Regions from separate parts of the Homo sapiens genome. Here regions 2 and 3 are each linked to region 1. Evidence: fine-mapped expression QTL. A gene starts in region 1. Each other region holds a variant in brackets. All regions are shown on one strand. Distances are from middle to middle.

What was found.
Region 2: its variant is fine-mapped to the expression of PADI4 in liver (GTEx, PIP 0.99).
Region 3: its variant is fine-mapped to the expression of PADI4 in whole blood (TOPMed, PIP above 0.99).

Annotation. Positions count from the first base shown.
Region 1 is chr1:17,304,848-17,313,025 of GRCh38, reverse strand. PADI4 (peptidyl arginine deiminase 4) reads right to left here and starts at 4,829. Exons shown (of 16, transcript NM_012387.3): 1 at 4,712-4,829. The coding sequence starts at 4,803. RefSeq lists an enhancer at 7,647-8,178.
Region 2 is chr1:17,545,817-17,553,994 of GRCh38, reverse strand. The region is part of intron 1 of ARHGEF10L (Rho guanine nucleotide exchange factor 10 like); the gene reads right to left. Among named protein-coding and RNA genes, the nearest start is that of ARHGEF10L, 10 kb to the right of the region's middle. RefSeq lists an enhancer at 6,298-6,942. The variant T/A (reference allele first, on the strand shown) is at 3,642.
Region 3 is chr1:17,274,830-17,283,007 of GRCh38, reverse strand. PADI3 (peptidyl arginine deiminase 3) reads right to left here. Exons shown (of 16, transcript NM_016233.2): 12 at 6,345-6,489; 13 at 6,132-6,234; 14 at 2,579-2,658; 15 at 2,212-2,337; 16 at 1-162. It overlaps MIR3972 (microRNA 3972), which reads right to left and starts at 5,119; the gene lies at 5,033-5,119. The variant G/A (reference allele first, on the strand shown) is at 3,767.

The sequences.
Region 1 (8,178 bases):
TAGAGACAGGGTTTCACCATGTTGGCCAGGATGGTCTCCATCCCTTGACCTCATGATCTGCCCGCCTCAGCCTCCTAAAGTGTTGGGATTACAGGCGTGAGCCACCATGCCCAGCCCCATTTTGTTTCTAAATAAGATAGCTACAAAGATTAAAAAAAAAAAAAAAAAAGCTACATATCTCCCTCACAATTTGCCGACAAGGAAATTCCTTGTGAGCCCTAAGATCTTTCCCGTGAACCAGTTCTGTTGAATTTCACCCTGACAATGTAAGTTAATAGCTTATCTTCACAGGCATGGAACAAAGGACAGAAATCAAAGTTATCCCTCTGCTTACCTGCAACAAATGCATATCTGATTTCTTCCCTTGCTCTATGTTTATCATTTGTGACAATATAGATTCCCTGAGCTCAAGGCATAAGTGACTATTCCTCTCCCCACCTCACACGGAAAATGTATTCAGTGAAAGCTGATCAAAGACTCAATGCAACCACTTACCTCTTATCTACCCATCTTTTTTTTCTTTCTTCCTCTTTGCCCCAATACCCACTTTTTTTTTTTTTTTTTTGAGGCGGAGTTTCACTCTTATTGCCCAGGTTGGAGTGCAATGGTGCAATCTCAGCTCACTGCAACCTCCGCCTCCTGGGTTCAAGTGATTCTCTTGCCTCAGCTTCCTGAGTAGCTGGGATTACAAGCGTCTGCCACCACGCCCGGCTAATTTTTGTATTTTTAGTAGAGATGGGGTTTCACCATGTTGTCCAGGCTGGTTTCGAACTCCTGACCTCAGGTGATCCACCCTCCTTGGTCTCCTAAAGTGCTGGGATTACAGGCGTGAGCCACCACATCCGGCCCAATTCCCACTCTTTTCCCTTTAAATATTGAAGTCCCAGACCCATTTAGGAAAAAGCACGGACTACAGATTTTTCCTGTTTCTGTATTCTTTTCCTGGGCACGTCCTTAACCTTGGAAATAAACCTCTGAAAATGATTGACACTCACTTTAGTCATTTTCTTTGATTTGCATTGGAAAGGGGACCCCTCTGCCAGACACTTTGTGTGCATTATATAATTCAATCTTCGCCGTAACCCAGGAAGGGGTGTTAATTTTCCCATTTTACAGATGGGTAAACCGAGGCTCAGAGAGACAAACAGACTTGTCCAGGCTCCCCACTGTCATGCCAACTGGTCTATTCAGAAGGAAACCCGGCTGGGCGCGGTGGCTCAAGCCTGTAATCCCAGCACTTTGGGAGGCCGAGGCGGGTGGATCACGAGGTCAGGAGATCGAGACCATCCTGGCTAACACGGTGAAACACCGTCTCTACTGAAAATACAAAAAAATTAGCCAGGCATGGTGGCAGGCGCCTGTAGTCCCAGCTACTGGGGAGGCTGAGGCAGGAGAATTGCGTGAACCCGGGAGGTGGAGCTTGCGGTGAGCCAAGATCTTGCCACTGCACTCCAGCCTGGGCTGGACAGAGCGAGACTCCGTTTTTAAAAAAAAAAAAAAGAAGAAGGAGACTTTGGGAGGAAGAAGAGAGACCATAGATGGCAGCTTCTGAATGCACACTGCCCTTTGCAGTTGGCACCTCCTGGACCCCCACCCCTTCTAGGCCTTTACCAAATCCTTTGGAAGTTGAATGAGCTCTGCCCACAGGGAGCAGTGCCCAGGGGAGTCCACTCCCCAGCATTTGGAGGCAGGGTGGGCTGCGAAGCAGGGTGGGTTTAGGGTCAGACAGTCCTGGCTTTGCCACCTTTAACTTTTTTTTTTTTGAGACAGAGTCTCACTCTGTTGCCCTTGCTGGAGTGCAGTGGTGCAATCTTGCCTCACTGCAACCTCCACCTCCCAGGTTCAAGCAACTCTTGTGCCTCAGCCTCCTGAGTAGTTGAGATTACAGGCATGTGCCACTACTCCCATCTAATTTTTTTTTTTTTTTTTGAGACGGAGACTCACTGTGTTGCCCAGGCTGGAGTTCAGTGGCACAATCTCGGTTCACTGCAGCGTCCGCCTCCTGGGTTCAAGCGATTCTCCTGCCTCAGCCTCCCAAGTAGCTGGGACTATAGCTGCGTGCTACCACGCCCGGCTAATTTTTGTATTTTTAGTAGAGACGGCGTTTCACCATGTTAGCCAGGATGGTCTCGATCTCCTGACCTTGTGATCCGCCTGCCTCGGCCTCCCAAAGTGCTGGGATTACAGATGTGAGCCATTGCGCCCCGTCTAATTTTTTTGTATTTTTAGTAGAGACGGGGTTTCCCCATGTTGGCCAGGCTGGTCTCGAAATTCTGACCACAAGTGATTTGCCCATCTTGGCCTCTCAAAGTGCTGGGATTACAGGCATAAGCCACCGTGCCCAGCTTGCCACCTTTAATTTATGTGACCCTCGGTTAGGTGTTTTTGCCTCTTTTTTTTTGAGACAGAGTCTTACTCTGTCACCCAGGCTGGAGTGCACTAGCCCAATCTTGGCTCACTGCAACCTCTGCCTCCCGGGTTCCTGACTTTGGGGACAGAGAGAATGGCTTGAGCAAAGTTATGGAGGCATGAATATGAGGGGCGGAGGTGAGGAGGGAGTGGCCCTCCCACCTGTGTGGTTCAGGAAGAGGCCGATGGCTGCTCAGGAGATGGGAGGGAGGCGCTGTCTGGGGCTATGTTAAGAACAGATAAGAAGTGACAGGAAGGTCTGGAACGGAGACCCATGGGGAGAATGGAGGGTCCTAGAGTCAGGCTGCCTGGGTTGAGTCCTGGCTCCCCTACTTATTAGCTGTGTGGCTTGAGGTGGGTTACTTAACTTCTTGGAGCCTCTGTTTCCTCTTTTGTAAAATGGGAATAACAACATTACCTGCCTCCCAAGGCCATTGAATGAGTTGAATGTAGGAAGTGTGATGTAAATATTAGCCATTGTTACGTGAGATGTTCAGGGGATAGAGTGACAGGCTCAACGTGTGGCTGAAGGAGGAGAAAAGAAGGATTTAGAGGCCCCTGTGAACTCCGGAGTCCCCATCCTTTCTGGGAGAAATGGGCAGTGCCTTCCTCTCTGCCCAACACTGACCAGCTGTCCACCCACCTCTCTAGGGCCAGAGGAAGCACTTGTGATCTTGATTACTACTCATGGACGCTGGGTAGAGGGCTAGCCTGGGCATGCTGGGAGAGGCCCTGGGCTAGCTTCAGCTCCTGTCATTTCCTTCACACCCATTCTCAGAGGAGTTGGGGGCGCCTCAGATGATGTCAGGTGATTTTCTTTTTCCTTTTCTCCCCAACTTCTTGGTCTCCTGCCTCCACCATGTGGCCCTGGGAGACCATCCCGACATTTCCTGCTGTTCTCTGGCTGCTGGGGCTCAGGCAGTAGCAAAGAAATGTCCCCGGCACTCCTGTGGGCACCATTCTAGGGCCACCGATGCCCAGACTGGGATGGGGAAGCCAGGGGCAACCACTCCTATTCCTGACAACAGCAATTGTTGCAGGATAATTTAGGAATCAGAGAGACCGAGGGGTTGAGGAGGATTTATTATTTAGATTCACTGGCTCAGTCAGGCTAACATTTCAAAAGACTGAGCCCTGAACAAAGAGTTAAGTTATCTTTTAAGCATTTCATGGGGCGGGGGTAGATCTGTGCAGGGGGAAGCATATTATAGAGGCAAGAAACAAAGACAGTTATTTAATTGAGACATGCATTATATTATTTTTTACTTTTTAAGGAAAAAAATTTTTACAGCTTGAGTTTATCTGTCTAGTGACCTTGCAGCTGCACAGCTGGAGAAACAGGGTCTTTACAATGCCTGGAAAAAGAGGAGCAATAAGGCTCACTAGCCACAAAAAAACAGGCAGTTAATTTTTAAGGGACTCCAGCTCTTTTTTTTTTTTTTTTCCAGGGAAAATTGTTTTTTTTTTTTTTAACATAGAACTGAGTTTTTGCTTACACGTTTTAAAATTTCTTTTAATTCCTGTTCTACAATAACAACAATGACCCTGCACACTCCCCGAGAGCATTCCTCAACTCTCTTGTTTAACCCAGACCCTGCCACAGAGCATGGCACTCAGCATTTGTTAAATGAGTAAATAAAAACTACCAAGGATGGGCCCACCACTGTGCTAAGTACTCAGCCAACATCTGCACATTTTTTCACATTGAATTCCTATAACCAGCCCATGATGTGAGTATTATCCCCATTTCACAGATGAGGCAACTGAGGCTCAGTTGCCCAAGGCCTCCTTGCTAGCCAGCAGCAGGTCCAGGCTTCCTACCTCAGTCTCTGCCGCCACAGAGCCCCGTTTCGCCATCCCCACCCACGCTATTATGCACCCACTGAGGGAGGCTTAGCTAAGAGATGTGGGGTAACAAACTGTGCTGTGAACCAGGAGGCCCAGGGGCTAACCTTACTTCCAGGGCACACGTGCTGTGTGACCTTGAGCAAGTCACAGACTCTCTGTAAGCTTCTGTTGCCTCGATGAAGACAGGGAGATGGATGGCCTGGTTTGCCCCATAATAATTTATCTGTCGTGTGTTCCTGGGGAATTTGCACTTGTACATGGCAAAGAACCCACAGCCATGAGACTGGCACTTCCCAGGGCTGCTGGGGTCTTCTCTCTCCAGCTACTCCCCTGGCAGTGGCTGCAGAGGCTGGAGCCTAGAGCCTGGGCCAAACACATGCTCCTGTGTCAGTAGAACTGGGTCATCCAGCATCTCCTGACCTGCCTCCAAAACCCCAGAAGGCCCCCCTCTTACCTGCAGATGTCAAGCTGAGTCAAGGTGCCCAGCACACACACGGCATGGGTGGGCTGCTCTGGGGTCACACGGATCAATGTCCCCTGGGCCATCGTCGGGCTAGCTCGTCCCTCTGGCTGTAGGAAGCCCCTGGGCTGGTTCCTTTATATCGCCCAGCAGAGGCCATGAGTCAGCACCTGCGGTCTGTGGCCCAGAGGCTCAACCCCTCCCCACTCAGGTCAGGGGTGTGGGCTCTCAAAATCTCCTCTGCCCTGGGGCTGCCCCTCGGACCTCTAGATGGGTGTCAATGCTGGTACCAGTGGCAGGGTGGCTCTGTCAGTTTCTTGGGAAGGATGGATGGCTCAGAAAGCCTGGGGTGGAGAGTGGGGCTGAGGGGTTGGGTCCTGGTCCTCATGCCCACAGTCCCATCCCTGCCTAGAGGCCCTGAACACCTTGATCTATCCAATCTCACCTATGTCAAACAGGCATATCAGAGAGGAGAAGGTGGGAAAAGCGGGGAGATTTTAGGTAAGCAGTCACAGGCCAGGCTACACGTTCAAAGACCAACCAGGCTTGGGACAAGTCTCTCCACCTGGGCCACCCACATGACAGCTCACATTCTCTATGCCAGGCACGTTTTCCTGCACTTCACATAGAATAGCTCATTACGACAAACCCGTGAACTAGATCATACCATTATCCCCTTATTTCACCCTCACAGCAGCCCTCTGAGGTTGGTGCCATTATTATACCCATTTTACAGAGGAGAAAACAGAGGTGCAGTTCTTCCACAGCTCGAGAGTGGTAGGGCCAGAATTGGAACCAAAGGTGTCCAGTTCCAGAGTGTGAGATTCATTAGCTGCCTGTCTATATGACACGTGCTTTCCAGACTGTATCACAGCTACATCTCGCTACAATACAAGGTGTATATGGGCTTATTATTACAACCCATTTTACAGAAGGAAAATTGAGGCTCAGAGAGTAAAAGTGACTAGCTCTTGCCCAAGGTGCCAGAGCTAGAATGCGGCAGAGCTGGGAAGAGAAGATGAGCTTCCTGGCATGGAAGTTGATGTTCTCTGCATGCTCCAGGATACCTGCCTCTTGCCAGGGCCTCTGGGTGTCAGACCAGACAGTGCAGGTGTGGGCCACGCCTGCCAGGGGGATGCCCATGTGGCCTCAGAGCTGTGGTTGCACCTGGGCCATTGGTGCCAGGCTCTGCCTTTAATGAGGCAACTGGGGGGTGGTGGATGGGTCCCAACAAGGAGCACTCAAAGGGTGCATGCATGGGAGTCTGGCGTGAACATAGAGCGTTTCGTGGGTTGGATATCTTGCGTTTGTTTTTTGTTTGCTTGCTTTGGCTTTGAAGCAAAGAATTTGCCTCATTAATTCAGAGTCAGGCTGTGGGATCAAACAGGCTTTAGTTCAAATCCTGCCTCATCTCAACATCCCTATGGAGTGCGTCCTATCAGGATGCCCATGTGTAGATGAGACCACAAAGACTTAGAGAGATTGAGTGAGACCCCCAAGGTCTCATAAGCCCTACAGTGGGGATCTGGATTCAGACCACCTTCTCTGGGCTCAAAATTTATCTTCTGTACCAGCAGATGATGATGTGGCCAGGTCCGACGTTCTGACGCATCTACATGACTGCCTGCACACAGTGTTAATAAACCCAATTTCTCTGGCTGACCGCATGATTAGAACTAGTTTGAGCTTCTACTGGGAAGTGGCAGGAGGGAGCTGTCCATTGTTAGAGTTGGGAGGGCCCTTAGAGAACACCCAATCCAGTCCTCGTTTTGCAGAAGGGGAGACTGAAGCACAGAAAGGGAGTGGGACCTGCCCACGGTCACACAGCAAATCAGAGGGAGGGCTGGCCTCTACCCCAAGTCTTAGGTCTCTTGAGGTTGTTTTCTTCTGTTCCTTCTTTTCTTTCTTATTTTCTTCAGCAGTTTGGGGTTTAAATTTGCTGTGAACGAGCCACAAAGAGGACGAGCCCCAAAGCAGTTTTGTTAATTCAACAAATACTGACTGAGTGCCTATTGATGGCCAGGCACTGTTCCAGGCACCGTGGATACGCTGTGAACAAAGTGGACAAAAATCCTGCCTTCATAGAGCCTTTTTGTTTGTTTGTTTTTGTTGGGAGAGAGACAGCCAGTAAGCAATAAATGCAGTAAGTGGATTCTATCGTATGTTAGTGGGGTAGAAAAAGGAAAAAGGACAGGGTAAAGGCTACCAGGAACACAGGGAGAAGGTTCCAAGTCAAGAGAACAGCCAGTGCAATCGGTACAAAGGCCCTGAGGCAGGGACATGCCTGGCGGGTTCAAGAAAGAGCAAAGAGGCCAGTGTGGCTGAAATGCAGTGAGGGAGGGGGAGAGCAGCCCAGGGCGGGGTGCGATCATATAGGGCCTTTCGGGCATCCTAAGAGCTTTGGCCTCTGCTCCAAGTAACGTGGGGAGCCTGGAGTCATTTTGAGCAGAGAAGGACCGCGAACCAACTTGCTTGAACGTGATCACTCTGGCTGTGATGTGAGAACAGACTGTAGGGGACCCGGGAGGAGGCCAGAAGACCTGTGAGGTGGCCGCTGCACACAGGCTGGTGACAGACGGTGGGGCTCAGGCTAGCGTGGTGGCAGTGGAGGAGGGGAGGATGGGTCAGGTTCTGGACATTTTGTGATGCAATACAGCCAATAGGAGTTGCAGAGGGACTGGATGAGGGGTGTTAAGAAAGACAGAGGGATGGAGGAGGACACCGCAGTTTGGAGCCTGAGGCCCTGGAGGGATGGGGCTGCCCGCAGCTGGGCAGGGAAGGCTGAGGGAAGGGCGGGGGGTGGGCATGGTGGAGATCAGGAGTTTGGTCCTGGCTTTGCCAAGTGTCATTTGGTGTGATGATGCCCTGTAGGACGTTTGAACACATGATTCCGGAGCTTAAGAGACAGGACCAGGCTGAAAAGGATAAAACAGTGAGATGTCAACATCTCCAGCTCCCCTAGGGAATGAGTGAGGATAGGGAAGAGAGAAGGCCGAGGGATGAGCCCTGGGGTCCTCCACCAGAGACCCAGGGGAGTGATGAGGGAGAGGAGATGCAAAAGAGAATGCATGCTATTTGCAATTACACAGGGAGCAATGCAAAACTAGGTTTGTAACACACACACACACACACACACACTCACTCACACTGAGGGAAAACGGCTGCACTTTGGAAGCAAAGCCTCTTTGTAGAAACACACTTGGTCACTCACAGTGGAACAAGGGCCACGGGCTCTGTGATGGGCAGGGCTGAGGGCAGGAGCCAAGGGCAGTGGAATGAGAGGCCAACAGACTTGGGGCTGGCGCGTGCCCCACCTGTGCCTGCAGCTCCAGCTGCATCCTGACATGGCTGCTCCCCTACTGTTGGACATGGGGGCTGTCTGCAAGTTTTCAGTGTCATAAACCATGCAGCGATGCATCACTTGTGCCCGTGTCTGTGGTTATTTGCAGGTATGTTGTAGA
Region 2 (8,178 bases), 240 kb before region 1:
GCAATCACTTGACCCTTGGGAAAGTTAGCTAAACGTTTTGTGTCTCAGTTCTCACATTTAACATGGAGCTAATCATACTCGCCTCCCTGTTGAGTAGGCAAAAAAATAATTCATGATGCAGCCAGCACAGTGCCTGGCACCCAGTGGTACTCAAGTGATAGTCGTCATCATACGCTGCTATTAAGCTATATATTTTTTATTTTTTAGAGACAGGGTCTCACTCTGCTGCCCAGGCTGGAGTGCAGTGGTGCCATCATAGCTCACTGCAGCCTCAACCTCCTGGGCTCAAGCCATCTTTCCGCCTCAGCCTCCTGAGTAGCTGGGACTACAGGTGCCCACCATCATGCCTGGCTAATTTTTGTTTTTTGGCTTTTTTTTAAAGATGGGGTCTCACTATGTTGCCCAGGCTGGTCTTGAACTCCAGGGCTCAAGCGACACTCCCACCTCAGCCTCCCAAAGTGCTGGGATTACAGGCATGAGCCACCACCCTCAAACTACAGTGTGTCAAACTATAGAGGGTTCACTGAATTGTTTCCTCATCTCAGTCTCCTCGAGTCCCACAGGCAATAGAGGACAGGAAGTAGAAAAAGGTGGCAAATGTTTGACTCTTACAGATTCCTAGATAGAAACCTGAAATCTTACACTTATGAATTATTAGAATTGGTAGAGATTCTAGATTCTCAATCTACCCATCTCACAGAAGAGGAAACTGAGGCTTAGGGTAAAGGCAGGGGGCAAAGTGAAATGTTGCCCAAGCTCTTCTGGCTGGTCCAAGGAAGAAGTGGGATTAGAACCCAGGCAACTGGCTCCCAGTCCAGTCCCCCTCTGAGGCCCTGGAGGAGTGAAAGGAGCAGAAGGCCAGGAGTCTGGGATGCTGGGGTTCTGGTCCCGGGTCTGCCCCACTTGGCTGAAAGATGATGAGCCAGGGGCTGAGGCCCACTGGAGCTCCAAGTCTTCGTGATAAAACTTAAGGGGTTGTAGGGACTGGGGTGTCCCAAAGTCAAGTGGGCAGAATGCTAGTGCCCCACAGGATCCTATCAAGTGATTTGCCAAGGAAGGGACTCATGCTCAGCTGAACAAAGTTTGAAGGGGGACCACAGGGATTTCAGGGGAGGGCTCCAGAGTTAGAGGGTCAGGTTCAAATTCTGCCATTTACTAGCTGTGTGACCTGGGACAAAATATCTACCCTTTCTGTTCCTTAGCTGTGTCATCTATAAAATGAAGATAATGACCATCCATAGCTCACAAGATGACAAGGGATTGAAACAAGAGGCTGGACACGGTGGCTCACGCCTGTAACCCCAGCACTTTGGGAGGCTGAGGGGAGCAGATTACTGGAGGTCAGGAGTTTGAGACCAGCCTGGCTGATATGGTGAAACCCTGTATCTACTAAAAAAAAAAAAAAAAAAAAAAAAAAAAAAAACGAAAATTAGCCAGCTGTGGTAGCATGCACCTGTAGTCCCAACTACTTGGGAGGCTGAGGCAGGAGAATCACTTGAACCCGGGAAGCAGAGGTTGCAGTGAGCCAAGAACATGCCACTGCACTGCAGCCGGGTGACACAGTGAGATTCTATCTCAAAAGAAAAAAAAAAGATAGATTGAAACAAGATCATGCGTGGTACCTGGCACACTTCAGGCCTACAGTGGACACTGGTTATTACTTCAGTCCTATTGGTCACATTTCATATTATCTCTACAGGCGAGGGAACCAAGACTGCAGAGAGGTGAGACACCTGCCCAAAGTGACAGAGCTCATAGCACAGGGCTCTGGGAAGTGCTCCCCATCTCCCCCTCCCCTCGCCCTCTGCCTGGCATCTGCCCTTCCCAGCAGGGACTGCCTCCCTCACTGGCCTCATGTGACCTGTTAATCAAATCCTGCACCAGCCCCATGGAGTTTTCCCATCACTCATTGGGGAGGAAGCAGATGCCCAGGAAACTGCTTAAATAACCCGTGCAGCTCTGGGAAAGCCCCAGCCCTGGCTCCCAGCAGCAGCCCAGCTCCTCCTGCCCAGAAGCACCAACTGTTCTCTGAGACTGCAAAAAGGCAATGTTTAAAGCCACACGGGGACTGTGGACGGTGACCTTCAACTCAAGCCTCCAGTGAGCCGCTCCCTGGGGTTACTCACCATCCGCTTCCACCCCTGGGACTGTGGTTGTTTTAGTTAGAAGACCAGTCCCAGCCTGGATGACCTGGCACGCTGGGAGACCTCAGGCAAGTTGCTTAACCTCTCTGACTCGGAAATCTTTTTGGAAGAGAAAAATGAGCAGAATTTGGGAAGGAGTAAGGAAGCAGCAGGGTTCAGAGAATGACCTAGGAATCGAGAGCCTTTTAACAGCCTTGAAAGCTCTCCCTGGTAACTCTTCTGTCCCTTGCAGCCCAATCTCTACCCCAAACAAAAAGTTCTAATCCCGTCATCCCCTAGCTTGAAACAGTTGACTGGCTCGCAGGGCCCACAAGATAAAGTACAAGCCCCTAGTACAATGGACAGAGCTCCTGAGCAGCACCCTCCTGCACCCTCCCTGACATGGCCCTGCTATTCCCTCCCCTGAGCCTTGGCACATGCCTGGATGCCTCCTGCTTCCTGACCTAACTCTGCCTTTTCCACTGCTTGGCTTGGACACTCCCCTGGGAAGCCTCCTCGGAGTCCCTCCACCTGCATCAGGCACCGCCCACCCTTCAGCTGTTGCCCATCCACCTCCCTCACCAGATTAAGGGGCGCCACACCTTACTCATCTTGGAATCTCCAGTTCCTTGCCCAGTGCACAGCATTCAGTAGGTGCTTAGTAAATATGTGTTGGGAGGAGAGGAATGCAAGGACAGACAAATGAAAACAAATGAACAAAACCACAAGCTTTGGAATCCTCCTCTGCAACACGGGAATGCCGTGGGCAAACGAGGTGGACTGCCCCCCTTGGTGTGAATCCTCACTCCCTACACAGTCGTGCACCTGCTGGCAGGTGCACTGGGTCACCTCCGGGCCTCTTTCCGCTTCGATAAGGTGAGACGCTTAATAGCACCTGCACCTCACAGACTTATCGTGAGGACCAGGGGCCGATCCTCCCCAGGTGTTTAGTTCAGCACCTGGCACTAAAGGTAAGTTCCTTGCACCCATCTTCCCCTAGCTCCCAGGCTGCCTGCCCTGGCTCCTCCTCCTCCACCAGACTATAAATATAAGAGCTCCCAGAGCTCACCTCCCTGTGGAGGGATCTCTCCTCTGAATTGTCTCTCTGGGTGGTCACACCTGTCCCCTTTATATGTTAAGGATGCCCAAGTTTGCATCTCCAGCCCAGAGGCCCTCACTACCCCCTTGGACTTCTTTGGGGTTTTTTGGCTTTTTTTTTTTCGTTTTTGAGATGGAGTTTCACTCTCGTTGCCCACACTATACTGCAATGGCACAGTCTCAGCTCACTGCAACCTCCACCCTCCTGGGTTCGAGCAATTCTCCTGCCTCAGCCCCTGAGTAGCTGGGATTACAGGCGCCCGCCACCACACCTGGCTAATTTTTGTATTTTCAGTAGAGATGGGGTTTCACCTTGTTGCCCAGGCTGGTCTCAAACTCCCAACCTCAAGTGATCCTCCCGCCTTGGCCTCCCAAAGTGCTGGGATTACAGGCGTGAGCCACTGTGCCCGGCCTACCCCC[T/A]TGGACTTCTAACCAGCCTTTCAATGTGAACCTGCCCCAAACCTAACCCTTGGTTTCTCCAAAAGCCATGCTCCTCACTCCCTCTTAACCGTCTCCTTTCATGACACCACCACTCACTCAGAGACTCAAAAGAAGAATCTAGAAGTCATGCTCAGTTCTTCTCTTTCCCTCACCCCTGTGTACAATCCACCAGAAATTCCAGTTGATTCCAGCTGATATATAACCCAAACCCCAGACTTTTCTCCTATTCCACTGCCAAATGGGAACCTTTCCTTGCCTTTCCTCTGGTTCCCAGCTCCACCCCTCCACCCTGGCTCTCTACAGCCAGTTCTCCTCCCAGCAGACATGGGATCTTTTGCAAAGGTAAATCAGTCCCTCCCTGCCCTTGACCCTGCAAATGTTCGTAGTCTTGTTTGCTGGACCATGGGTTATTGGAGCGTAAAACTTCACCATATCTTTGTACCCATCCATCACCCCACAGCACTGAGTCAAGTGCTTCCACATCATAGGCACTTGGTAAATTATTTTTGAATAAATTATTGGAAAAAGGTGAATTTCTTAACAGAGTTTTTACTAGCTGGAATCTTGGAACTATATTTCATTAGTAAAGGTATTTATGGGAAGTGGAAAACAAACCTCCGATGGTTTCCTTTTGCACCTAGAGTAACAGTCCTAACTAACATGGCCTCTTCCACACCCTCCTAAACAGGCCAAGTTCATCTGGCCTCAGGGCTTTTGCATTTGCTGTAGCTCCTACCCGGAATACTTTTCCCTCAGATCCTTGCAGGGGGAGCTCCTGCTTGTCATTCAGGTCTGGCTTAAATGTCTCTCTTCAGAGAGGCCTCCCTGACCACCTGCAGCTAACGAATCCTGTACCCCCACCCCCACATACACCCTCTCTACCCCTCATCCCCAGTTATCACCATCCACCAGTCTGTTTCCTTCACAGGACTTAATGCATAACATGTGGTTACTTTATAAATTTGATGTGTTTGATTTTTGTCTCCTCCACCATCATATAAGACTCACGAGGCTGGGCACCGTGGCTCACACCTGTAATCCCAGCACTTTGGGAGGCTGAGGTGGGAGAATCACTTGAGGTCAGGAGTTCGAGACCAGCCTGGCCAACATAGTGAAACCCCATCTCTACTAAAAATACAAAACTTAGCCAGGTATAGTGGCAGGCGCCTGTAATCCCATCTACTCAGGAGGCTGAGGCTGGAGAATCGCTCGAACCCAGGATGCAGAGGATGCAGTGAGCCAAGATCATGCCATCACACTCCAGCCGGGGTGACAGAGCAACACTCCATCTCAAAAACAAAAACAAAAACAAAACCACCAGGGCAAGGTTAATGTCAGCTTACTCACTGTTGTAACTGAAAAGGATCAGAATATGCCATCCCAGGGCCAGAAGTGGTGGTTCACACCTATAGTCCCAGCACTTTGGGAGGCTGAGGCAGGAGAATCATTTGAGGTCAGGAGTTCAAGACCAGCCTGGCCAACATGGTGAAACCCTGTCTCTACTAAAAATACAAAAATTAGCTGAGTGTGGTGGTGCGCACCTGTAATCCCATCTACTCAGGAGGCTGAGGCTGGAGAATTGCTTGAACCCAGGAGGCAGAGGATGCAGTGAGCCAAGACCATTGCACTCCAGCCTGGGCAACAGAGCAAGATGCTGTCTCAAAAAAAAAAAAAAAAAAAAAAAAAGAATTATTTTGAGCTCAAGGTACTTGAGCAGCAGCCAATACAGGAAGAGCTCTTTGCCTCCCCTTTTCTGCCTAAAAGCAGGGCACACATTTCCCTTTGTAAAGGTGACATAAATTTCCATTTGCAAAGGTGTACCCCTCTACCTTACTTTATCTGCATAACAAACCTTACTAAACCACCCTTATCTACCATACATTTCCTAGTCACTTTCCTGAAATTTACTGACCCCTAAGAGTCCAATACTTTTCTTTTGTCTCCTCACTTCTCCACAATTTATCGCCCTTTGTTAAAATGTTACGTAAGCTCCTGGGTCTAACTGCCTCTTTGGATTTTCATTTCTTTTCTATGGAGACCCCTTACAGTAAAAAAATACATATATATAGTAACATTAAATAAAATCTATATGCCTTTTCTCCTATTAATCTGTCTTTTGTCAGTTTAATTCATAGGCTCTATCACAGAACCTAACAGGGTAGAAGAAAAGATATTCCTCCCCTACATGACAAAAGCCAACATTACTAAGCTTTGACCTGGGCCACGCAATATCATGAGCATCCTACCTGCCCTTTCTTGTCAAATCTCCATGCCTTATGACACAGCTACTAGTGTTATCCCTATTCCACAGATGAGAAAACAGATAAGAGAAGGGTCAAGTGAGTTGCCCAAGGCCCAACATAGAAAGAGCCCCAGCAGGGAGCAGGGTACCCCTCTACTCCCAGCGTCTACTCCCAGAACCCAACACAGCCTCTCCCTTTGTGGGCCCTAAATAGATACTTGCCAAATGAGTAAATGAATCACTGAATACATGAATGATATGCACCACAATATTGAGAGAGGCTGTCTTCAGGTGGCAAAATGATTTCCATTTTCTTCTCTCTGTATTTTCTCTGTGTTTTCTTCAGTGGTCATGCGATACATGTATAACTTAAAGTAAAACAAATGCCTGTTTTAAAAGAAATTCAAAGGTTGTGGGTAATGTCTAGGTTCAGGAATATTTTTCTTCAATTTCGGGAGACTGTTATTTTCCTACTTAATTTAACCATTGTTTTTCTAGGGAAATTGAATAAAAAGCCCACATTTCCAAAGCTCACTCCAAGTCTGCCCACTTCAAACAATGAAGAGAGGGGAGTAATGAGAGCTGGCTCCCGCCTTGTATGCTAATGGCCGGGATTCTGGGATGCATACCAATCAGCCAGCGACTAGAACCAGGACTTTTACAGAGAGGAGGGCACTCTGGGGCCAGGCTCTCAAGGAGAAAGAGGGGTTCCAAAACTCAGAAATGCCACCTCATCTTGGGCCCAACATGCCAACATGGGCTGGCACCATCACAAACCACCTGCACTGCCCTGGACTGGGGATGTATCTGCAAGAAGGTGGTGTTGGGGCCTGGTCTGAGACCATCCTCTCAACCAACAGGCCAGTGGGAAGATGAACCCCATGGCAGGGAGCTCAGTGCTGGCTCTAACCAAGAGGTGGGCAGACCCTGGGCCTGTGGCCAAGTGGTCAATTATCCTTCCCCATTTTCCATAGCATATGGGCACTGCTGCTAGGGGCTGTCAAAGGCACAGCCGGGCCAGGCCCTGGGAGGGTTGGCGCTGCTCAAGGAAAGACACAAGAGTGGAGAGGCAGGACTCCGGGGCGAGCAGAATGTGGTGCTTCTAACTCTTGGTTGCTCAACCCTGGGCAAGTTCAATGGAGGCAAAACAGAGATAATGATGCACCCCACCTCTTGGAGTAGCTGAGAACTGAGAAAGCTCCCACGAGCCATGCACTACCAAGGTGCCTGCCACTCTGCAATTATGAGCCATTAGTATTAGCTCTTTCCTGACACCAGGCCTAGGGAGCCCGTGTGGGTACCAGAATTCTATTCTCATCCTTGCCCCTGAGCCACAAGGTAACAAACCCAGCTATGACCAGACTGGGCCTTGCCAACACTGAATTAAAAAAACATACATTAACTCCGAACTAAGAAAGGCAAAGTGTGCTGAGATTCCAGGCATGTGATGAATCTCTCCCTCCCCTCCTCAAAGGGAAAAGGAAAACCGCATAAAGGAGGGGAGCACGGGACTGCAGAAAGATCTCAGGGCCTGCCGGGTTCAAATCCTGCCACTTACAAACACAGTGCCCTTGGATAAGTCTCTGAGACTCAATTTCCTCATCGATAAGATCGGAAAATAGGACGTACTTGCAGGATCGGCATGGAAATTAAATGAATTGATGCATGAAAAATATCTGGCACCTATAGGCATAAAGTCAAAATCAGTTGCCTTTAAGCAAACAAGTTCTCAATTATCTGCCTAAATGAAGGACAGAAGCAGCTTTTCTGGTATCAATTAGCAATGGGGGGAGAACAGGAGACCCCTCTTCCCAATTAAGTTTTGTGCTTGATATTAACATGGATTTTTTTTGAGAATCCACCAGCCACAGATGCAGGGGCTGGAAGACCAGCAAGCTTCAGGGACAGCAGGAAACTACCAAGAAACCTCAAAGATTTTTAGGGAAGCAGGGTGATCCACACAGCACAAGGCCCCTGACAGGTGAGGTTTGTCAGATTTCCTTTGCTGGCACCCAGATGATGCTGTGCCTCCTGACTTGAGGAAGGTTCAATGCTTCCCCTACTCTGTTTCAAGCCCTGCAGACTTTTGATTCACCTGACACCAGAGCCAGACTGAACTCTCAATAATTCATGCCTCTGAGCCTTTGCACATGCCATTCCTTCTGGGTGGAGAAAACACACATTAACTCCCCTGGGTAGAAGGAGCAGCATGTGCAAAGGTTCAGAGGCATGAATTGTTCCCCTCTCCCTACCCCATTCCCCTGCTACACTCCG
Region 3 (8,178 bases), 30 kb after region 1:
ATGCAGCATGTGGTATGGAGTGAAGTCATCAATGAAGGTGCAGTGGAGGCCCAGCGGCTCCAGCAGGGACCGCACCTTCTCCTCCAGGCAGCAGCAGCCATTGATGATGGGCCCAAAGGGCTTGGGGATGCCCAGGTGCTTCCCCAGCACCAGCATGTTCACCTGCAGTCCAAAGGGGAAGCAGCACTTCATCACTGGGCTCCCACCCCACACCTCTACTCTACCTGCAGGACCTAGGTTTGTGTTTTAGACAGCCTTGTCAATAGCTACTCACCCTTTCCTGTGCAATGAGAAGGTAACTGGCTAAAGGGGCTGGGAAGAACCGGTTAGCCAGGTGCCTTTGGGAGCATCCGCAGAACTCACTCTGGCAACGTGCTCTGGAAACTGCCCTAATGTGAATTTGGAATTGTGGATTGTGGCAGCTGCCATGTTTGTGCTGCAGAATCCCAACCTTCTAGGCCATAACTGATTGGGCCAGGGAGAACAGCTGGTCCAAGATGGACCAATCAGAGTCCCTCTCCCAGGAATTTGAAACTGACAATGGGAGCGTCTAGTTGGTCTCTGCCCGTGTCAGTGTCTCTGTGCATGGCCATACTCATCTTTGTCCCCAGGAACAGAGAAGCAAAGGAAGCCAAGCTGGAAGAAGAGGGAGAAGAAGTAGGAGGTGGAGAGGGTGAGAGAAAGAGAGAGAATGAATGATGTAGACACAGAAACAGAGAGGGTTCCAGGCTCTGCTGCAGCTATCCTGCCCTCAGGTTTCTGGTGTCCTTATATTAAGACTCCCTCTGGCTGAAGCTGGCTTCAGTAGGACTCTGTCTCTTGCGAACACAAGAACCTGAATCATTGCACAAACTTCTTGGGGCACATATATAATTACAAGATAGCCTCGAACAGGAAGGAAGGGGAGTGAAAAGAGGCTTTGCAAGCGGAGGGCAAAATGTTGCCTGAAAAGAGGAAGGAAAAAGCGGGGCATGAAGCAATGGTGGTGTGGACAGGTTCCCCACAAGGCTCTGACAATGGGCAAATTGAGTTCTTTTAGGGGATGAGGTGGGGAGGAGTGGAGAGGGGAGCTGGGTGACCTATAGCAGTGCTACTCAAACTGTGTTCCTCTAAAAGGCAGCATCAGCACCACCTGGGTGTTTGTTAGCGCGGCAGCAGTGCCTCGGGCCGTGCTTTAGACCTGCTGAATCAGGACCGCTGGGGTGGGGCCCCACCTGTCCAGGTGTTTCAAAGGCAAGCTCAAGATTTAGAAGCAGGCCAAGCACGGTGGCTTCCGCCTGTAATCCCAGCACTTTGGGAGGCCGAGGCTGGTGGATCACCGGAGGTCAGGAGCTCAAGACCAGCCTGGCCAACATGGCAAAACTCCATCTCTACTAAAAATACAGAAATTAGCCGGGCGTGGTGGTGCACGCCTGCAATCCCACAATCCCAGCTACTCAGGAGGCTGAGGCAGGAGAATCGCTTGAACCCTGGAGGCTGAGGTTGCAGTGAGTGAGATTGTGCCACTGCCCTCCAGCCTGGGCAACAGAGTGAGACTCCGTCTCAAAAAAAAAAAAAGAAAAAAAGAAAAAAAGATTTACAAGCATCAGAGGCAAAGCCCTCAAGGCTCAGTCAAAAGCCACTTCTTCCATGAAGACTTCCTGGATCTCCAGTTCTACCTCTTAGGCTGGAAGTGCTTTGTCTCACCTCCAAACTGCCACATCGCCTTATCCTACAAAATAGATCACTGGGACATGTCCTCAGAGAAGGGAAGAGTTTCCCTCTCAACCGATTAGACTGAAAGTCCCTTGAGAGCAGGGGGCATTCTTAATCATCTCTGCATCTGCCACAGGACACCCTAAATACATGTGGGATGGATGAAGAGCCACAAGCTGGGAGGAAGAGAGCAGAATGAGCATCTGGGTTCCCAGCTGATGCCATGTGCTTTGCACACGTGACCTCATGCAATCATTCATTCACTCCACAAATGTCAAGTGGACCCCTTCCCTGATGCCCCTTGGGCCAGGGCTTGGCCAGCAAGCATTCCACAGGGACCATGGTGGTCAGCCAGCTAGAAGCCCTTCTGAGGAGCACCATAGGACCCCTGATTCTCCCTGCCACCCCCACTGGCCACCACAATCCTAAATATGACTGTGACCAGACATTTTTCCTCTCTCGAGCTTAGAGGTTTGCAGCCTGATTTGGCAAAGGAGTCATGGGTAGTGCCCTCACCAAGTCAGGGAAGAAGGCCGTTGCTTTTTTCCTCTCGGTCTTGAAGAGCTGTGGGATGTCAATGATGTCACACTCTGCCAGGCCCAGCTCCCGCTTCAGCACCTCACGGTTCCAGTCGATGCAGCTCTGGGGGCAGGGGAGGGCCAGAGTTGGGGACACCTTGCCAGTGTGTTTTGGGGGCACCAAGGCATCCTGTCGCTCCCCTCACTTCTTCTGGGTCAAAAGAGGGTGTTGGGACCCCTCTGTCTGGGCCTGTTCTAACCTGAGCTTTCATGAACAGTTAGCCTCAGATGTCTGTATCCCATCCTTGCCTCCAGCCCCGCCTACTCCCAAATCACAGCCCACAGGTACACCACAGCCCTTGTACCTGCACAAACTTATTGTAGTTGATGAGGTCTTTATTGGAGAGCACCTGGTTGATGGAGATGGTCTTGACCTGCTCATCATCTGTGAAGGAGAGAGATGAAAGAGAAGGACAGGGACAGCACCAACGTGAGGACCACCTGCTTAGGGAAGCAGACAGGCAGGAGCCAAGTTCACAGCTAATGGTCTTGCCGAGTCAGCAGCCTCTGACTTTCCCAGGCCTTGGGTGGGTTCCACCTGTCTGAGCTTGCCTTGGCCACTGTGCACATCTTGGGGTATAAGGAGTGGGAGGGTCTGGTTGCCACAGTGGAATGAACTGAGACCTTTATTTGAGTTCACTGGAAGTGGTAACGCCTGTCACTGGAAATGTACAACTGCCCGAGGGCACTGGATGAGGAATCCTCTTGCTTTGGCTTAGCGGGGAGCTGGGTCAGTTGCTGCCCACCCACCCACCATCAGTCAGGTTTTATAGGTTCACTGAGCAGCGAACCAGCCAGTCCTGGGATTCAGACACCATCCAGCCCCAATCCTGCCCTTCAGGGGGTGACTGCGTGAAATGGGGACCTCCCAGGGGTCCAGATTTTCTCAGCCTGATGGTGTGCCCATGCAGATGAGACTGGACAGGGAAGCGGAGGCTAGAGTCAATGGCACACAATCCTCATGGCTGCTACTTAGTAAGCGCTTACCATGAGCAGGCCCCGAGGGGAGTGCCCAGGTTCAGCATCTCATTTAACCCTCACGGTGACCCCCACAAGGTATGCATTATGATCCCCACTTTACAGATGAGAAAACTGAGGCTCAGAGAGGTCAGAAGACTTGCCAAAGGTCACACAGGTAGGATATGTGGGGGCTTGTGATTCAAACCCAAGCCCAGGGCTCGCACAGGGCCTCAAGCCTTGACCAAGGGAAAGGAGAGGGCTCCCCTGACCCATCTGCAGGTCTAACGCCCGCTTCACCCCAGTTTAAGGCAGGAAGCTGGGGTCCAGTCCCAGCTCCACTGCAATCTTGCTGAGGCCTCTGGGCCAGTGACATCCCCTCTCTGAGCCTCACATTCTTGGGAATAAAGGTGGGTGAGAGTCATCCCATTTGATCTCTCGTGAGATCAAATGAGATAACACGTGTGATGCACACAGCGTGAGGCCTGGCGCACTGAGGTGTCTAATCAGTGCTCTGGCCTCTGTGTCTGGCCTCT[G/A]TGTCTATGTAATTAATCGCCACAGTCACTGCCTGAGTGTCAGCCCTCGAGGGTGGGGTGGCTGCTTGTGGCCTGCCATCTGTGAATTCTCCCACGCTCCCTCCCAGCTGGGCAGGTTGGAATAACTCTGCTCAACCCATTCCTGGGTCTTGCTCACCATAAGTTCTCCCAGGAAAGATGAAGGTGGCATTTCTCCCTGCCTGGTACATAATTTGGATTTAAGGATTTCTAAGACTTACTCTAGGTTCACCGGAGTCTAGTTAGGGTGCGTTTGGGAGCAACAGGGTCAAGAAAGACTATTTCTCTTCCATTTTATTGCTAAGGCTCCAGGGTTGTGTTGGAAGAAGTTAACGCTAGCAAACAGAGAGCAAGGGGACTTTGGAAATTATTATACTTGGGGGCGTCTAAGTTCTACAGGAGCTTTTTTTCTCTCTGAGCTGTGTTTGGTCTAGGATGCTATCTGCCTTCCCTGAGGCCATGGGACCAAGAAAATCTATGATCCTGCGTGTCAAAGGGTCTTTGCCCTGGGACCTCTGGGGTCACTGAGAAAGGGAGGATCCTCTGGGATTCATGCAGTCTCAGTGGGGCTGGAAAGGGAGTGAATTTGAGAACGCTTCCAGCAAGCTTGCCAGATGACTCCAGTCCAGCCAGCTCTCTCTCTCTCAAAATTCTTCCAGTGCAAAACAAAAAACAAAACAAAAAAAAGTGGGCCCTGGCCAGACACAGTAGTTCACACCTGTAATCCCATACTTTGGGAGGCCAAGACAGACAGATCACTTGAGCTCAGGAGTTCAAGACCAGCCTGGGCAACACGGTGAGACTCCATCTCTACAAAAAATACAAAAAATTAGCCAGGCGTGGTGGTGCATGCCTGTGGTCCTAGCTACTCGCAAGGCTGCGGTGGGAGACTCGCTTAAGTCTGGGAGGTCGAGGCTGCAGTGAGCTGAGATCATGTCACTGCACTCCAGCCTGGCTGATAGACCCTGTCTCAAAAAAGAAGAAAAGAAAATGCCAGCTCCTTGTTTAAAGAGCAGACAAAAGAGTACCATTAAAAGTGCTACAGTATAAAGTTGTTTCTTTGTCCCCGAGTCTCTCTCCTGACTTGTCAGGGTGGTTTTTATTTGCTATTTCACATTGCGCTTTGCCGGGGACTTGCATGGGGCTGGACAGTCCCTTGCTGGTGTCAGGGCCCACCCTGTGGGCCTCACAGCGGAGGCCTAGCTCCCAGGGGGCTGTGCTTGGGCATGCCTCTGCTATGAGACCCACATGCTGTGCCCTGGAACGGGGCTGGCAGGTCCAGTTTGGCATCTCTCATTCCCACAGGACTGCCACCCCAAGCCAAGGCAAATGGGCGACCTCCAGAGTATTGTGGCCTCTGGGTATGTGCTGGGTACCTGAGCAAGCCTGGGTGAGACACTTACCCCTCCCAAGTTGCCCACCAAATGCCCTTGCAGGGCAGGGACGACTGATGCCATGAAGATGCTGAGTGGCACATGTGCCCAACCCCAGCCCTCCCCATGCCCAGGCTCCTGCTGGGGGCAGAGTGCTGCAGCATCTCAGGACAGTGACAGAGATGGGGGAGGCCTTGCACTGAGGCTCCAGGGAGCACAGAAGTAGGCAGCAGAGAATCTGTGCCAGGGAGGCAGGGAGGCTGGGAGACAGGACTGTGCCTGAGCAGAGGCTCCAAGCCCCGTAGATGCTCCACTGATCCATCAGACCTCACAAAACAGAATTAAGATTTCAGGGCAGCCAGGTGTGGTGGCTCACGCCTGTAATCCCAGCACTTTGAGAGGCCGAGGCGGGCTGATCACCTGAGGTCAGGAGTTCGAGACCAGCCTGACCAACATGGAGAAACCCCCGTCTCTACTAAAAACACAAAATTAGCCGGGCGTGGTGGCGCATGCCTGTAATCCCAGCTACTCAGGAGGCTGAGGCAGGAGAATCGCTTGAACTTGGGAGGCGGAGGTTGCGGTGAGTGGAGATCACGCCATTGCACTCCAGCCTGGGCAACAAGAGTGAAACTCCGTCTCAAAAAGGAAAAAAAAAAAAGGGAGATTTCAGGATAGTGACTGCAGAACATTAAAGCTCCACGCCGTGACTGCACTGGTCACCTGCCTGGGAAGCCACTATGTCCCCGCTCAGTCCATGTCCACCTTCTATCACCCCGCTTCCCACCTCAGCTCGGCCCCAGCTGTGGGCAGTGGTGTCTGGTGAAGCAAGGTGTGCAGGGGCAGGAGTGAGAAGCCCTGAATTTGGGGACACACCCCTGCTTTAAAACTTGCCCTCCCCCTCTCAAGCCATGATGTGTCTTAATTTGGGTAAGGGGCAGGCAAGCCGCAAGGAGGGACACGGCACTGTTACCCACCAACAACCCCCTGGAACAGGAGGGCCCTCCCGTGGCCACACTTCTGCTTTTCCTGGAAGAGCTTGAAGCAGGCCCCAGGGCTGGCCAGGAGCATCCGGAAGCCCTGCGTGCAGAGAACAGATTCAGCTGAGCCTCCTGCCTTGGCATGGCGCCCTGGAGCTCAGTTCTTGCCCCAGATGCCAGGGAAAGACACGTCATGCACGAAGTTCTTACCTTCCCATCGGGGGCAGGGACAAAGCTCAGAAACTCATCCACATGGCCCACGGCCAACCAGTCCACAAAGAGCTCCACGGGGGGCTGCACCTTCTGGGCATGGAGGAAGTCCCGCACCACCTGGGTGACCCTGCGGCCACTTGACCTGGGACCCACGAGGTTAAAAAAAAAGTTGCTTAACTAAAAAGACTCCATGCAGAAATAAAATGACAAGAGTTTAGCATTCCTGCAATATCTGATTTTTAAAAAACAAAAAAACATGCATTACTTTTATAAACAGGAAAGTAATAAATATGTATATTTCATTTTATTTATTTATTTATTTTTGAGATGGAATCTCACTCTGTCACTCAGGCTGGAGTGCAGTGGCGTGATCTCGCCTCATTGCAACTTCCGCCTCCCAGGTTCAAGGGATTCTCCTGCCTCAGCCTCCCAAGCAACTGGGATTACAGGCGTGCACCACCAGGCCAGGCTAATTTTTCTGTATTTTTACTAGAGATGGGGTTTCACCATGTTGGCCAGGCTGGTCTCGAACTCCTGACCTCAAGTGATCTGCCCGCCTCAGCCTCACAAAGTGCTGGGATTACAGGGATGAGCCACTGCACCCAGCCAGATACGTATATTTTAAAATTCCACTTAGGGTGAGTTCTGCATGAGGCAGACTCAGGACAGGTCAGTCACACCAGGGCAATGACCTACCAGGTCCCACCATCCAGGAAAATCTTCAGAACCACCCTCACACCAGGTTCTTATTCTCCAAGAGACAGATTTCACCCCCATGTTCAATTTTTACGAAAATGTATCTAAGGGCATGGTCCAGCTTCCTCTTTCAATGGGATTATGTATTTGAGGGCAGTAGTCCCTTCCAAAGCTTGACTCTGGATTCATTCATTATTTGATCCCAAGTCTGTTCTAACAGCTTTGTTGCATTTGGTTAGCTCAATGTCTTGGTCTAGTCCACAGCAAGTAACCAATATGATAGGATTCCTTTTCCATCAGCACCCCTGTGTCACTACTGAACAACACATCATTTGTTACTCTCTCTGTATGTTATTGTCATTTCACTTAGCATGTCTTGTACCTCACTTCTCTTGCTCTCAGGAAAAGATCTTATATTAGTCATTTACATGGTAGTATGAACAAGCTTTGACCTAAATGCATTTTCTCCCAGGACTGTTGGGAATGGAAACTTTTTCTTTGTTACTTTTTTTTTTTTTTTTTTTTTTTGAGACGGAGTCTCGCTCTGTCGCCCAGGCTGGAGTGCAGTGGCATGATCTCAGCTCACTGCAAGCTCCACCTCCTGGGTTCATGCCATTCTCCTGCCTCAGCCTCCTGAGTAGCTGGGACTACAGGCGCCTGCCACCACGCCTGGCTAATTTTTTTTTTTTTTTTAGTAGAGACGGAGTTTCACCATGTTAGCCAGGATGGTCTCGATCTCCTGATCTCATGATCCGCCTGCCTTGGCCTCCCAAAGTGCTGGGATTACGGCATGAACCACCATGCCCACTCTTCTTCTGTTACTATTAATTGACTGTTACTAGTATCATCTATTTATTTTCAGAATCAGAAAACTTGAGTCTAGTTATAACTTTGCTTTCTATGTGACTCACTTACCCTCTCTGGGCCCACTTGTAAAATGAAAGTGTTGGACTGAATGATCTCTTAGGTCTCTGCTCTCTCTGGTTTCAGAGTCCCCGAGGTAAGTGTGGACTGTGTCTGGTGAACACCCACCAACCCCAGCACATCCGGGAGTATAATTTCATCATTCCTTGCTTCTGGCTCTCTTCAAGGAGTGCAATGGCCCCTGCTCCACCATCATCACCACCCCCAACCC